Linked DNA regions of Homo sapiens: all the other regions are linked to region 1. The links come from fine-mapping of genetic effects on gene expression. A gene starts in region 1. Each other region holds a variant in brackets. All regions are shown on one strand. Distances are between the middles of the regions.

Region 1 (4,172 bases):
CCTTTTCACCAAATCCCAGTGCCTGAATTCTTCAGGAGGTAACACGCAGATATCTAACAGGAAGTGCTTCTGATAGGCGGTGCAGTAAACATCTGGAATGCATCACAGCCAGGGAATAGCACAGACAGGATAGCACAGAGAGGATATAAGACCTTCAAGATGGCTCAAAAGACCTTGGGGTTGATGAACTATGCTGTTACTAAGGACTGTTTGGGGTACATTGATCATTGTTAGGGTAAAAAGCAGGTGATACAGTCCAGTCCTGTCCTCACACTTCACAATTTTTACTGGAGACAAGAATGGGCAGGATAAACTATGGGGCCCATAGGACCCTCCCATCGTCTGCTGTCTATCTGGCCGGAAAGCATGATGATGAACAAAGCAACCTTGCCTCTGTCAGGCACACCTATAATGGTTCCAAGAGCCACATTCCGACTGTTGTACTGCGGGTGGCAATGGAACGGTCTTCCGATTACCTAAAATGCCACAGATTCCCTTCTTCTCTAATACGCATCCGATTACCATAGAACTCTAAGATATCTTTTAAAACCTAGTCATATTAAAAGTTCCTTTTTCTCCATTAATCAGTCTGCCCCAAAGAAGCTTTTCCGTATTTCACAGGATCCTTAGAAGAGGCCAGCTAACTGTGATACCTAGCACCCTTATCTTTTCTCGATACACAGCGTCCTTCCTCCAGCAGAATCCTAAAATAGCAGCAGTCCGGATTAACATGGCTGTGAGGAGTAGGTGCTTAGCTGAATAACATCAGAATTAATGAGGGGCCGGACCCCAAACAGAGCCACCTGGTGGGCATGAACACCAGGCAGTTATGGGGCCGTTTCCTTCAACCAAGTGTCTGGTCCCTGGCTATCTCTGCTTCAGCCAGAACACATTCTGTCCCCCACCGAGGCTTTAAGGGCCAGCGCGCAGCACCCTCACCTTTCAGCAGGTCCGGGTGCACATAGCCCAACACGTCGGAGACCCCCAGCTCCTGGCGCGAACAGGTGCCTCCGTGGATGTGCAACCAGGCGGGCTCGGCGAGGGCAGTGCACAGCGCCGTGATAGACAGGGCGCCAGGCAGGGCCGAGGCCAGGCTACGCTCCGGCTGCTTGGGCAGAGCGCTGCCTCCCGGGCTCCTCCGCCGGCGCCCGCCGGGCAGCCCTGCGCCTCCGGGGGCGTACATGCCCGGGGCCGCCCGCCGTCGCTCCGCAGTCGCTGCTGGTCGCCGCCGACCTCCGCGGGGCGCGCAGAGCCTGACAGTCCGGTGGAGGATAGCAACGCTCCGGGTTCGCTGCAGGTGAAGCCGGGACTGGGCTGTCAGGGTTGACACCAGAGGATAGGGGGGTGGGACCCGGGGCTGACGGAGACGGGGAGGGCTGCGGGAATTCGGGGGGCGGAGACAGGAGACTCCGGAATGGGACTGCGGGACGACAACCGAAGAGGGCCAGGGGCCAGATGGGGTCTGGGCAGACTCGAGTGGGGGGCGGAGGGATCGGGGATCGGCTACTGCTAGAGCAAAGACCCGGAGTCAGGGTCTCAGCCAGAGGATGCCGAGGGGCGGAGGACCGGGCTGGGCCGCGGGGATCGGGGACCCGTGATCTGGGACCGGCGGTTTGGGGTGCGACCTGTGCGCAGAAAAGACCCTCCCCACGCCGCCCACTGTTCCTCACCAGTCAGCAGGCCCCAGGGCTGGGATGGTGCTGCTCAGCCCAGTCACGGGCTTCTCGGCTGCCGGGGGCCGAGCGTTCCCAGGCCCCAATCCCGCAACGCCCGGACAGACCCGGGGCCGATGCACTTCCGGCTTCCTCCTCCTCTGCCTCCGCCTCCTCCGGCTCCCCGCCCCGTCCCCCGCGCGCGTCACAGCCTGGGCGCGCCGCCGGCTCTGCGCAGGGCCTCACGGGACTGGTAGTTCGAGGCGGTCCCGCGATGCTTTCCCTGCCGAGGTGAGGGGAGCGACTACAACTCCCAGAGGGTATGGCGGCCGCAGCAGTGGGCAGTTGAGTTTCCGGGGCGACCCAGGTCCTCCGGCGGAAGCGGGAGCCTCTGTCGGCCGCGGAAGCCTGGAGTGGGCGGTACGCAGACGCGCGCGGTGAGACCCGCTGTCTGCTCAGCGGACTCTGCCCGCCCCCACCTCCCCCTGCGTCGGGCCGACATGAAGGACTCGCTGGTGCTGCTGGGCCGTGTCCCGGCGCACCCGGACTCCCGCTGCTGGTTCCTGGCCTGGAACCCCGCGGGGACCCTGCTGGCCTCGTGCGGCGGCGACCGGAGAATCCGCATCTGGGGCACGGAGGGTAAGGCCCAGCCTGGTTGCGCGGCCCTCAGCGCTGAGGGCTCAGCCTGCGCGTAGTGCAGGCGCTCAGCCTGCAGGGGAGGCTGAACCTGTTCCTGGCGGAGGGAGAGTGGGATGTTAGCCACGCCGAGAAGGGCTTTACAGGCAAAGAAGTCTGCGACTGTTGGGAGGAAAAACGTCAGCAGACAAGCTGAAATGTCAAGGGAATTGTGTTAGCTGCAGAGGCAGGAAAATGGGAAAAGAGAGGTGTTAGGAAAGTGGCCTTCAGAGTAACTTGCGACTGGATGGTCACATTTTATCCCGAGGGCATTGGGGAACCAATAGCAATTTTAGATCAGATTTGTTTTAGAAAGATGCCTCCAGAGGTTGGGCGCGGTGGCTCACGCCTGTAATCCTAGCAGTTTGGGAAGCAGAGGCGGGTAGATCACCTGAGGTCAAGAGGTCAAGACCAGCCTGGCCAACATGGTGAAACCCCGTCTCTACTAAAACTACAAAATTAGCTGGGCGTTGTGGCGGGCACCTGTAATCCCAGCTACTCGGGAGGCTGAGGCAGGAGAATCCCTTGAACCCAGGAGGCGAAGATTGCAGTGAGCCGAGATTGTGCCATTGCACCCCAGCCTGGGCATCAGAGCAAAAACTCCGTCTCAAAAAAAAAAAAAAAAAAAAAAAAAAGCTTCCAGACGAAGTAGATTCATTTGCATCTTTGTAAAAGCTGTGAAATACACTCCCTGAGCTTTCCCCCACTAGCTTGATTCCAGTGCTAGCCCCTGATATTGAATGGCTTCATGGTGCTGCACCCAGCTCCAGAGCCTGGCCTGCGCTCCGCCTTTAGGTGACAGCTGGATCTGCAAGTCTGTCCTTTCTGAAGGCCACCAGCGCACCGTGCGGAAGGTAGCCTGGTCCCCCTGCGGTAATTACCTGGCCTCTGCCAGCTTTGATGCTACCACTTGCATTTGGAAGAAGAACCAGGATGACTTTGAGGTACCCAGGCTGGTTGGGACCAGAATTATTGCCTGTTTCCTCCCCAGGGCTGGTTCAGGAACCTGAGCCAACCTGCGCCAGTTGGGCTGTACCCATGGGAAGGGGCTTAGGGGTGTTAGCTGCTGTTAATTCTCATTTTCTTTCCCCTTTCACAGTGTGTAACCACTCTCGAGGGCCATGAAAATGAGGTCAAGTCAGTGGCTTGGGCCCCATCTGGCAACCTCCTGGCCACTTGCAGCCGAGATAAGAGCGTTTGGGTCTGGGAAGGTGAGGCCAGGTCCCTCCAGGTGGATTGGGAACCACCTGACAGCCCCCTCTGTGTCCCTGACAGGGTCGGCTCTTGGGTCCCCTTTTTCTCTCCCACAGTTGATGAAGAGGATGAGTATGAATGTGTCAGTGTTCTCAACTCCCACACACAGGATGTCAAGCATGTGGTTTGGCACCCAAGTCAGGAGGTAAGAGTCAAGCAGGGACTCTTGTGGGAAGGGCTCTGGTGTGCAGGCTTGTGCCCAGCCTTCCTCTGCTTTTCAGCCTTAATCTAGCTTTTACGGAGAGTTCCATCTGTGAACAAAAAACATTAGTCCCTTTATAAAAACAGATCCGGCTGGGTGTGGTGGCTCACACCTATAATCTCAGCACTTTGGGAGGCCATGGTGGGTGGATCATCTGAGGTCAGGAGTTCGAGACCAGCCTGGCCAACATGGTGAAACTCCGTCTCTACTAAAAATACAAAATTAGCGGGCATGGTGGCACATGCCTGTAATCCCAGCTATTCGGGAGGCTGAGGCAGGAGAATCACTTGAACCCAGGAGACGGGGGTTACGGTGAGCCGAGATCGTGCTATTGCACTCCAGCCTGGGCAACAACAGCAAACTTCATCTCAAATAAATAATAAAATAAA
Region 2 (4,172 bases), 23 kb before region 1:
CATTAGCAGCTCACTTAGTTCACAGGTCTAAAGCTGTGTCCTCCAGCCCAGCCCTCTAGCAGTAATTAAGAGGATATTTTGGTTCCTGTTGCCACTCCTTTGTTTTATTTCTCAGGGCCCTCAAAGACACCCCAGAATAGATTTCCTGTCCCCTTTAATCTTGCCCTTCTTTGAGTCCCCATTGCATTTTATGGTATATTTCTAGCATGACCTTTCATTCTTTCAGTAATTACCTCCTTATTTCCTTCACCCCTGCATTTAAAAAAAAATTTTATAGATGAGGTCTCACTCTGTCACCCAGGCTGGAGTGCAGTGGTGCAATCATAGCTCGCTGCAGCCTTAAACTCCTGGGCTCAAGCAGTCTTCCTGCCTCTGCCTCCCAAGTAGCTGGGACCACAGGTGCACATGACCATGCCCAGCTAACTTTTTTTTTCTTTTTTGTAGAGACGGGAGTCTTACTTTGTTGCCCAGGCTGGTCTCAAACTCCTGGCTTCAAGCAATCCTTCCACTTTGGCCTTCCAAAGTGCTGGGATTACAGGCATGAGCCACCATGCCCAGCCTCCTTCTCTTACTAGCTGAGAACTAAGAGAAGACACTCTGGAGACAGAGGAGGAAACAGTGACGATGCCACATGATGAATACATAATGGAGGGTGAAGACAAGGCTCCGTCAGGGGCACCAAGGAGGGAAACCCAGTTCTGTGGGGAAGGTATGGGGCAGCTTCACAAGCCCAGTGTCTGCTCCCTTTGTGGGAGACGTGTTGTTTCAGCATCCATTCCCCCTTCTTTTAGGAAAAGTGCTTGAATTTCCTTTTCATGGAACCACCCACCTCCCTCTCATCCATGCATTCTATTCCCAGTATCAGGGGTAGACAAGTGACTTCAGGCTTGGCCAATTAGGGTTCTGACTCTTGGTCAAATCAGAGTGAATCCTGAGTCATTTGTAAACTCCAAGGAAAGGGCTTGCTTTGTTTTCTGTTGAATGCAGTGCTCTGAGATAGCCGGAAATGAAACTGCTCTCTTGCCACACTGAAGGCTAGAGAAGGGCCTGGCCAGGAAATGATGCCAGTGATCAGGGGTGGAGCTGGAAGAGGGGGAGTGAGGAGGCCCAGACATCTTGGGAGCCCCAAATTCACCTCAGGATTTAACTTCTCCGCTGCTCAGCCAATAAATTCCTTTCTTCCATGACTAATTTGAGTTGAGTTTTTAGTTTTTGCAACTAAAACAGCACTGACTAATACACCCTTAGGTAAGATTAGAGCAAGAATTTCCAATATCTGTGTTCTTCATCCTGAAATTTGGTGAGGATATCTAAGGTTCTTTTGTCTTTTAAAAGAATTCTGTTGCAATGGAAAGTATCAATCCATATTTTTCCATTTCTCCAAAATGTTTTAGTGTATATCTATGGGGCACAAACTTAATCTCTGTAGGCCCTCTGCCATAGTTGCTCTGTGCCACTTGATAAGGGGCTGGTATCTAGAATATATAAAAACTCTTAAAACTCAGCCGGGCATGGTGGCTCATGCCTATAATCCCAGCTCTTTGGGAGGCCGAGGCAGGCGGATCACCTGAGGTCAGGAGTTTGAGACCAGCCTGGCCAACACGGTGAAACTCTATCTCTCTAAAAATACAAAAATTAGGCGGGCGTAGTGGCTCACTCAAGACTGAGGCAGAAGAACCACTTGAACCCAGGAGTTGGAGGTTTCAGTGAGCCCAGATGGCTCCACGGCACTCCATCCTGTGCAACAGAGTGGCACAGGATGGCAAAAACAAACAAAAGCTCTTAAAACTCAACAATAAAAGACAACCCACTTTAGAAATGAGAAAAGGGCCAAGTGTGGTGGTAATCCCAGCACTTTGGGAAGTTGAGGTGTGTAGA[T/C]TGCTTGAGCCCAGGAGTTTGAGAGCAGCCTGGGCAACATGGCAAAACCACATCTCTACAAAATACAGAAAAGAAAAAAAAAAAATCAGTCAGGTGTGGTGTTGCACACCTGTAGTCCCAGCAACCTGGAGGCTGAAGTGTGAGGATTGCTTAAACCTAAGGAGATAGAGGCTGCAATGAGCTGCGATTGTGCCACTGCACTCTACCTTGGGCAACAGATGAAGACGCTGTCTCAAAAAATAAGAATAAAGAAAGAAAGATGGGAAAAGAATTTATTTCTTTCCTTTTTTTTTTTTTTAGACAAGGTCTGGCTGGTCCCCCAGGCTGGAGTGCAGTGGTGCAATCTTGGCTCACTGCAACCTCTGCCTCCCAGGTTCAAGTGATTCTCCTGCCTCAACTTCCCGAGTAGCTGGTACTACAGGAGCAAGCCACCACACCCAGCTAATTTTTGTATTTTTAGTAGAGCCGGAGTTTCACCATGTCGGCTAGGCTGGTCTCGAACTCCTGACCTCAAGTGATCTGCCCACCTCGGCCTCCGAAAGTGCTGGGATTACAGGTGTGAGCCACTGAACCTGGCCTTTTTTTGCTGCTGTTGTTGTTCGTTTTGTTTTGTTTTTGTTTTTGTTTTGAGATGGAGTCTCGCTCTGTCACCCAGCCTGGAGGGCAGTGGCTCAATTTTGGCTCACTGCCACTTCTGCCTCCTGGGTTCCAGTGATCCTCCTGCCTCAGCCTGCTGAGTAGCTGAGACTACAGCCGAGACACCACCATGCCTGGCTAATTTTTTTTTTTTAAGTAGAGATGGGGTTTCAGCATTTTGGCCAGGCTGATCGTGAACTCCTGACCTCAAGTGATCTGCCCACTGCACCTGGCCTTTTTTTCTTTTTTTTTTAATAGAGATGAGTACAATGGACTTTAGGGACTCAGGGTAAAGGGTGGGAAGGGGGTGAAGGATAAAAGACTACACATTGGGTACAGTGTGCACTGCATAGGTGGTAGGTGCACCAAAATCTCAGAAATCACCACTAAACGACCTATTCCTATAACCAAACACCACCTGTTCCCCAAAAACCTATTGGAAAAAAAAAAACTCACGTAAGTAAATAAATAGAGGCCAGGAGCAGTGGCTCACACCTGTAATCCCAGCACTTTGGGAGGCCGAAGTGGGCAGATCACCTGAGGTTGGGAGTTTGAGACCAGCCTGGCCAACATGGAGAAATCCTGTCTCTACTAATAATACAAAAATTAGGTGGGCATGGTGGCACATGCCTGTAATCCCAGCTACTTGGGAGGCTGAGGCAGGAGAATCACTTGAACCTGGGAGATGGAGGTTGCAGTGAGCAAAGATCACCCCATTGCACTCCAGCCTGGGTGACGAGCGAAACTCCATCAAAAGAAGAAAAAAAAGAAAGGAAAGAAAGATGCGGTCTGGTGGTGCTGCCCAGGCTGGAGTGCAGTGGCTATTCATAGGTATGATCATAGTGCACTGCAGCCTCAAGACTCTTGGGTTCCAGTGGTCCTCCTGCCTCAGCCTCCTGTGTAGCTGGTACTACAGGCTACAGCTAAACTGCTCAGTTCCTCAGTCCTTCTTCATCTCCCACAGTGGATACAGAGCGTGGCAGCCCCCTCTCAGGAAGTCATGGATCTTTATGGCTGGCAGGACTGTAAAGTCACCCAGTTCAGCCCCTCATTTACATATAAGGAAACAGTCCTATAGAGAAGGCGTGCCTTTTTAAGTCACACATTTGAGCAAATAAATAATTATCTCCTCACACATTTAAGATTGCTATTACATCCTTTTCTCTAGAACTTTTAACCTTTCATCCACTCAGAATGCTTGCCTGGACCCTCTCCAATTTCTCAATATCTTTCTTTTTTTTTTTTTTTTTTTTTTTTTTTTGGAGACGGAGGCTTGCTCCGTCACCTAGACTGGAGTGCAGTGGCATGATCTTGGCTCACTGCAACCTCTGCCTCCCAGGTTCAAGTAATTCTCCTGCCTCAGCCTCTCAAGTAGCTGGGATTACAGGCGCCCACCACCACGCCCGGCTAATTTTTGTATTTTTAATGGAGACGGGGTTTCACCTTGTTGGCCAGGCTGGTCTCAAACTCCTGACCTCAAGTGATCCACCCACCTCAGCTTCCCAAAGTGCTGGAATTACAGGCGTGAGCCCTCGCGCCCAGTTCAACATCTTTCTTAAGTGGGCCCAAGGTTGGGGGGAAAATCTCACCGTAGAGATATTTGTTAGATATCGAGCATGTGCTGAAGAAGGCATCTGTGATGATTAATTTTATGTGTC
Region 3 (4,172 bases), 110 kb after region 1:
GCATTTCCATCTGAGGTACCAGGTTCATCTCACTAGGGAGTACCAGACAGTGGGTGCAGGACAGTGGGTGCAGCGCACCGTGCGCAAGACGAAGCAGGGCGAGGCATTGCCTCACTCGGGAAGCGCAAGGGGTCGGGGAGTTCCCTTTCCTAGTCAAAGAAAGGGGTGACAGACAGCACCTGGAAAATCGGGTCACTCCCACCCTAATACTGCACTTTTCCGACGGGCTTAAAAAACGGCGCACCAGGAGATTATATCCCGCACCTGGCTTGGAGGGTCCTATGCCCACGGAGTCCCCCTGATTGCTAGCACAGCAGTCTGAGATCAAACTGCAAGGTGGCAGCAAGGCTGAGGGAGGGGCGCCCACCATTGCCCAGGCTTGCTTAGGTAAACAAAGCAGCCGGGAAGCTCGAAATGGGTGGAGCCCACCACAGCTCAAGGAGGCCTGCCTGCCTCTGTAGGCTCCACCTCTGGGGGCAGGGCACAGACAAAGAGACAGCAGTAACCTCTGCAGACTTAAATGTCCCTGTCTGACAGCTTTGAAGAGAGCAGTGGTTCTCCCAGCATGCAGCTGGAGATCTGAGAACGGGCAGACTGCCTCCTCAAGTGGGTCCCTGACCCCTGACCCCCGAGCAGCCTAACCGGGAAGCACCCCCCAGTAGGGGCAGACTGACACCTCACACGGCTGGGTACTCCTCTGAGACAAAAATTCCAGAAGAACGATCACACAGCAGCATTCGAGGTTCATGAAAATCCGCTGTTCTGCAGCCACCGCTGCTGATACCCAGGCAAACAGGGTCTGGAGGGGACCTCTAGCAAACTCCAACAGACCTGCAGCTGAGGGTCCTGTCTGTTAGAAGGAAAACTAACAAGCAGAAAGGACATCCACACCAAAAACCCATCTGTACATCACCATCATCAAAGACCAAAAGTAGATAAAAACACAAAGATGGGGAAGAAACAGAGCAGAAAAACTGGAAACTCTAAAAAGCAGAATGCCTCTCCTCCTCCAAAGGAATGCAGTTCCTCACCAGCAACGGAACAAAGCTGGATGGAGAATGACTTTGATGAGTTGAGAGAAGAAGGCTTCAGACGATCAAACTACTCCGAGCTACAGGAGGAAATTCAAACCAAAGGCGAAGAAGTTAAAAACTTTGAAAAAAATTTAGACGAATGTATAACTAGAATAACCACTACAGAGAAGTGCTTAAAGGCGCTGATGGAGCTGAAAGCCAAGGCTCGAGAACTACGTGAAGAATGCAGAAGCCTCAGGAGCCAATGCGATCAACTGGAAGAAAGGGTATCAGTGATGGAAGATCAAATGAATGAAATGAAGCGAGAAGGGAAGTTGAGAGAAAAAAGAATAAAAAGAAACAAACAAAGCCTCCAAGAAATATGGGACTATGTGAAAAGACCAAATCTAAGTCTGACTGGTGTACCTGAAAGTGACGGGGAGAATGGAACCAAGTTGGAAAACACTGTGCAGTATATTATCCAGGAGAACTTCCCCAATCTAGCAAGGCAGGCCAACATTCAGATTCAGGAAATACGGAGAACACCACAAAGATACTCCTCGAGAAGAGCAACTCCAAGAAACATAATTGTCAGATTCACCAAAGTTGAAATGAAGGAAAAAATGTTAAGGGCAGCCAGAGAGAAAGGTCGGGTTACCCACAAAGGGAGGCCCATCAGACTAATAGCAGATCTCTCAGCAGAAAATCTACAAGCCAGAAGAGAGTGGGGGCCAATATTCAACATTCTTAAAGAAAAGAATTTTCAGCCCAGAATTTCATATCCTGCCAAACTAAGCTTCATAAGTGAAGGAGAAATAAAATACTTTACAGACAAGCAAATGCTGAGAGATTTTGTCACCACCAGGCCTGCCCTAAAAGAGCTCCTGAAGGAAGCGCTAAACATGGAAAGGAACAACCGGTACCAGCCACTGCAAAATCATGCCAAAATGTAAAGACCATCAAAGCTAGGAAGAAACTGCATCAACTAACGAGCAAAATAACCAGCTAACATCATAATGCCAGGATCAAATTCACACATAACAATATTAACTTTAAATGTAAATGGACTAAATGCTCCAATCAAAAGACACAGACTGGCAAATTGGATAAAGAGTCAAGACCCATCAGTGTGCTGTATTCAGGAAACCCATCTCAGGTGCAGAGACACACATAGGCTCAAAATAAAAGGAT[G/A]GAGGAAGATCCACCAAGCAAATGGAAAACAAAAAAAGGCAGGGGTTGCAATCTTAGTCTCTGATAAAACAGACTTTAAACCAACAAAGATCAAAAGAGACAAAGAAGGCCATTACATAATGGTAAAGGGATCAATTCAACAAGAAGAGCTAACTATCCGAAATATATATGCACCCAATACAGGAGCATCCAGATTCATAAAGCAAGTCCTGAGTGACCTACAAAGAGACTTAGATTCCCACACAATAATAATGGGAGACTTTAACACCCCACTGTCAACATTAGACAGATCAACGAGACAGAAAGTTAACAAGGATACCCAGGAATTGAACTCAGCTCTGCACCAAGTGGACCTAATAGACATCTACAGAACTCTCCACCCCAAATCAACAGAATATACATTTTTTTCAGCACCACACCACACCTATTCCAAAATTGACCACATACTTGGAAGTGAAGCTCTCCTCAGCAAATATAAGAGAACAGAAATTATAACAAACTGTCTGTCAGACCACAGTGCAATCAAACTGGAACTCAGGATTAAGAAACTCACTCAAAACCGCTCAACTACATGGAAACTGAACAACCTGCTCCTGAATGACTACTGGGTACATAACGAAATGAAGGCAGAAATAAAGATATTCTTTGAAACCAACAAGAACAAAGACACAACATACCAGAATCTCTGGGACACATTCAAAGCAGTGTGTAGAGGGAAATTTATAGCACTAAATGCCCACAAGAGAAAGCAGGAAAGATCCAAAATTGACACCCTAACATCACAGTTGAAAGAACTAGAAAAGCAAGAGCAAACACATTCAAAAGCTAGCAGAAGGCAAGAAATAACTAAAATCAGAGCAGAACTGAAGGAAATAGAGACACAAAAAACCCTTCAAAAAATTAATGCATCCAGGAGCTGGTTTTTTGAAAGGATCAACAAAATTGATAGACCACTAGCAAGACTAATAAAGAAGAAAAGAGAGAAGAATCAAATAGACACAATAAAAAATGATAACGGGGATGTCACCACCAATCCCACAGAAATACAAACTACCATCAGAGAATACTACAAACACCTCTACGCAAATAAACTGGAAAATCTAGAAGAAATGGATAAATTCCTGGACACATACACCCTCCCAAGACTAAACCAGGAAGAAGTTGAATCTCTGAATAGACCAATAACAGGCTCTGAAATTGTGGCAATAATCAATAGCTTACCAACCAAAAAGAGTCCAGGACCAGATGGATTCACAGCCGAATTCTACCAGAGGTACAAGGAGGAACTGGTATGCTTCCTTCTGAAACTATTCCAATCAATAGAAAAAGAGGGAATCCTCCCTAACTCATTTTATGAGGCCAGCATCATCCTGATACCAAAGCCGGGCAGAGACACAACCAAAGAAGAGAATTTTAGACCAATATCCTTGATGAACATTGATGCAAAAATCCTCAATAAAATACTGGCAAACCAAATCCAGCAGCACATCAAAAAGCTTATCCACCATGATCAAGAGAGCTTCATCCCTGGGATGCAAGGCTGGTTCGATATATGCAAATCAATAAATGTAATCCAGCATATAAACAGAACCAAAGACAAAAACCACATGATTATCTCAATAGATGCAGAAAAGGCCTTTGACAAAATTCAACAACCCTTCATGCTAAAAACTCTCAATAAATTAGGTATTGATGGGACGTATCTCAAAATAATAAGAGCCATCTATGACAAACCCATAGCCAATATCATACTGAAAGGGCAAAAACTGGAAGCATTCCCTTTGAAAACTGGCACAAGACAGGGATGCCCTCTCTCACCACTCCTATTCAACATAGTGTTGGAAGTTCTGGCCAGGGCAATTAGGCAGGAGAAGGAAATAAAGGGTATTCAATTAGGAAAAGAGGAAGTCAAATTGTCCCTGTTTGCAGATGACATGATTGTATATCTAGAAAACCCCATTGTCTCAG

The links. PIP is the estimated chance that this variant, and not a neighbour inherited with it, causes the effect. A credible set is the group of variants that fine-mapping cannot tell apart.
Region 2: its variant is the best candidate, but not a certain one, in a credible set for the expression of TMEM127 in whole blood (INTERVAL, PIP 0.51).
Region 3: its variant is the best candidate, but not a certain one, in a credible set for the expression of TMEM127 in blood mononuclear cells (TOPMed, PIP 0.61).

Annotation. Positions count from the first base shown.
Region 1 is chr2:96,264,199-96,268,370 of GRCh38, forward strand. TMEM127 (transmembrane protein 127) reads right to left here and starts at 1,799. Exons shown (of 4, transcript NM_017849.4): 1 at 1,671-1,799; 2 at 940-1,314. The coding sequence starts at 1,183. CIAO1 (cytosolic iron-sulfur assembly component 1) reads left to right here and starts at 2,027. Exons shown (of 7, transcript NM_004804.3): 1 at 2,027-2,291; 2 at 3,123-3,271; 3 at 3,427-3,538; 4 at 3,638-3,726. The coding sequence starts at 2,153. RefSeq lists silencers at 1,059-1,368, 1,419-1,628, 1,639-1,688 and enhancers at 1,919-2,108, 2,339-2,618, 3,216-4,172.
Region 2 is chr2:96,241,433-96,245,604 of GRCh38, forward strand. It overlaps STARD7-AS1 (STARD7 antisense RNA 1), which reads left to right. Exons shown (of 4, transcript NR_046322.1): 4 at 445-1,191. Among named protein-coding and RNA genes, the nearest start is that of TMEM127, 22 kb to the right of the region's middle. RefSeq lists enhancers at 402-661, 682-731. The variant T/C (reference allele first, on the strand shown) is at 1,879.
Region 3 is chr2:96,379,057-96,383,228 of GRCh38, forward strand. No RefSeq gene overlaps it. Among named protein-coding and RNA genes, the nearest start is that of NCAPH, 45 kb to the left of the region's middle. The variant G/A (reference allele first, on the strand shown) is at 2,205.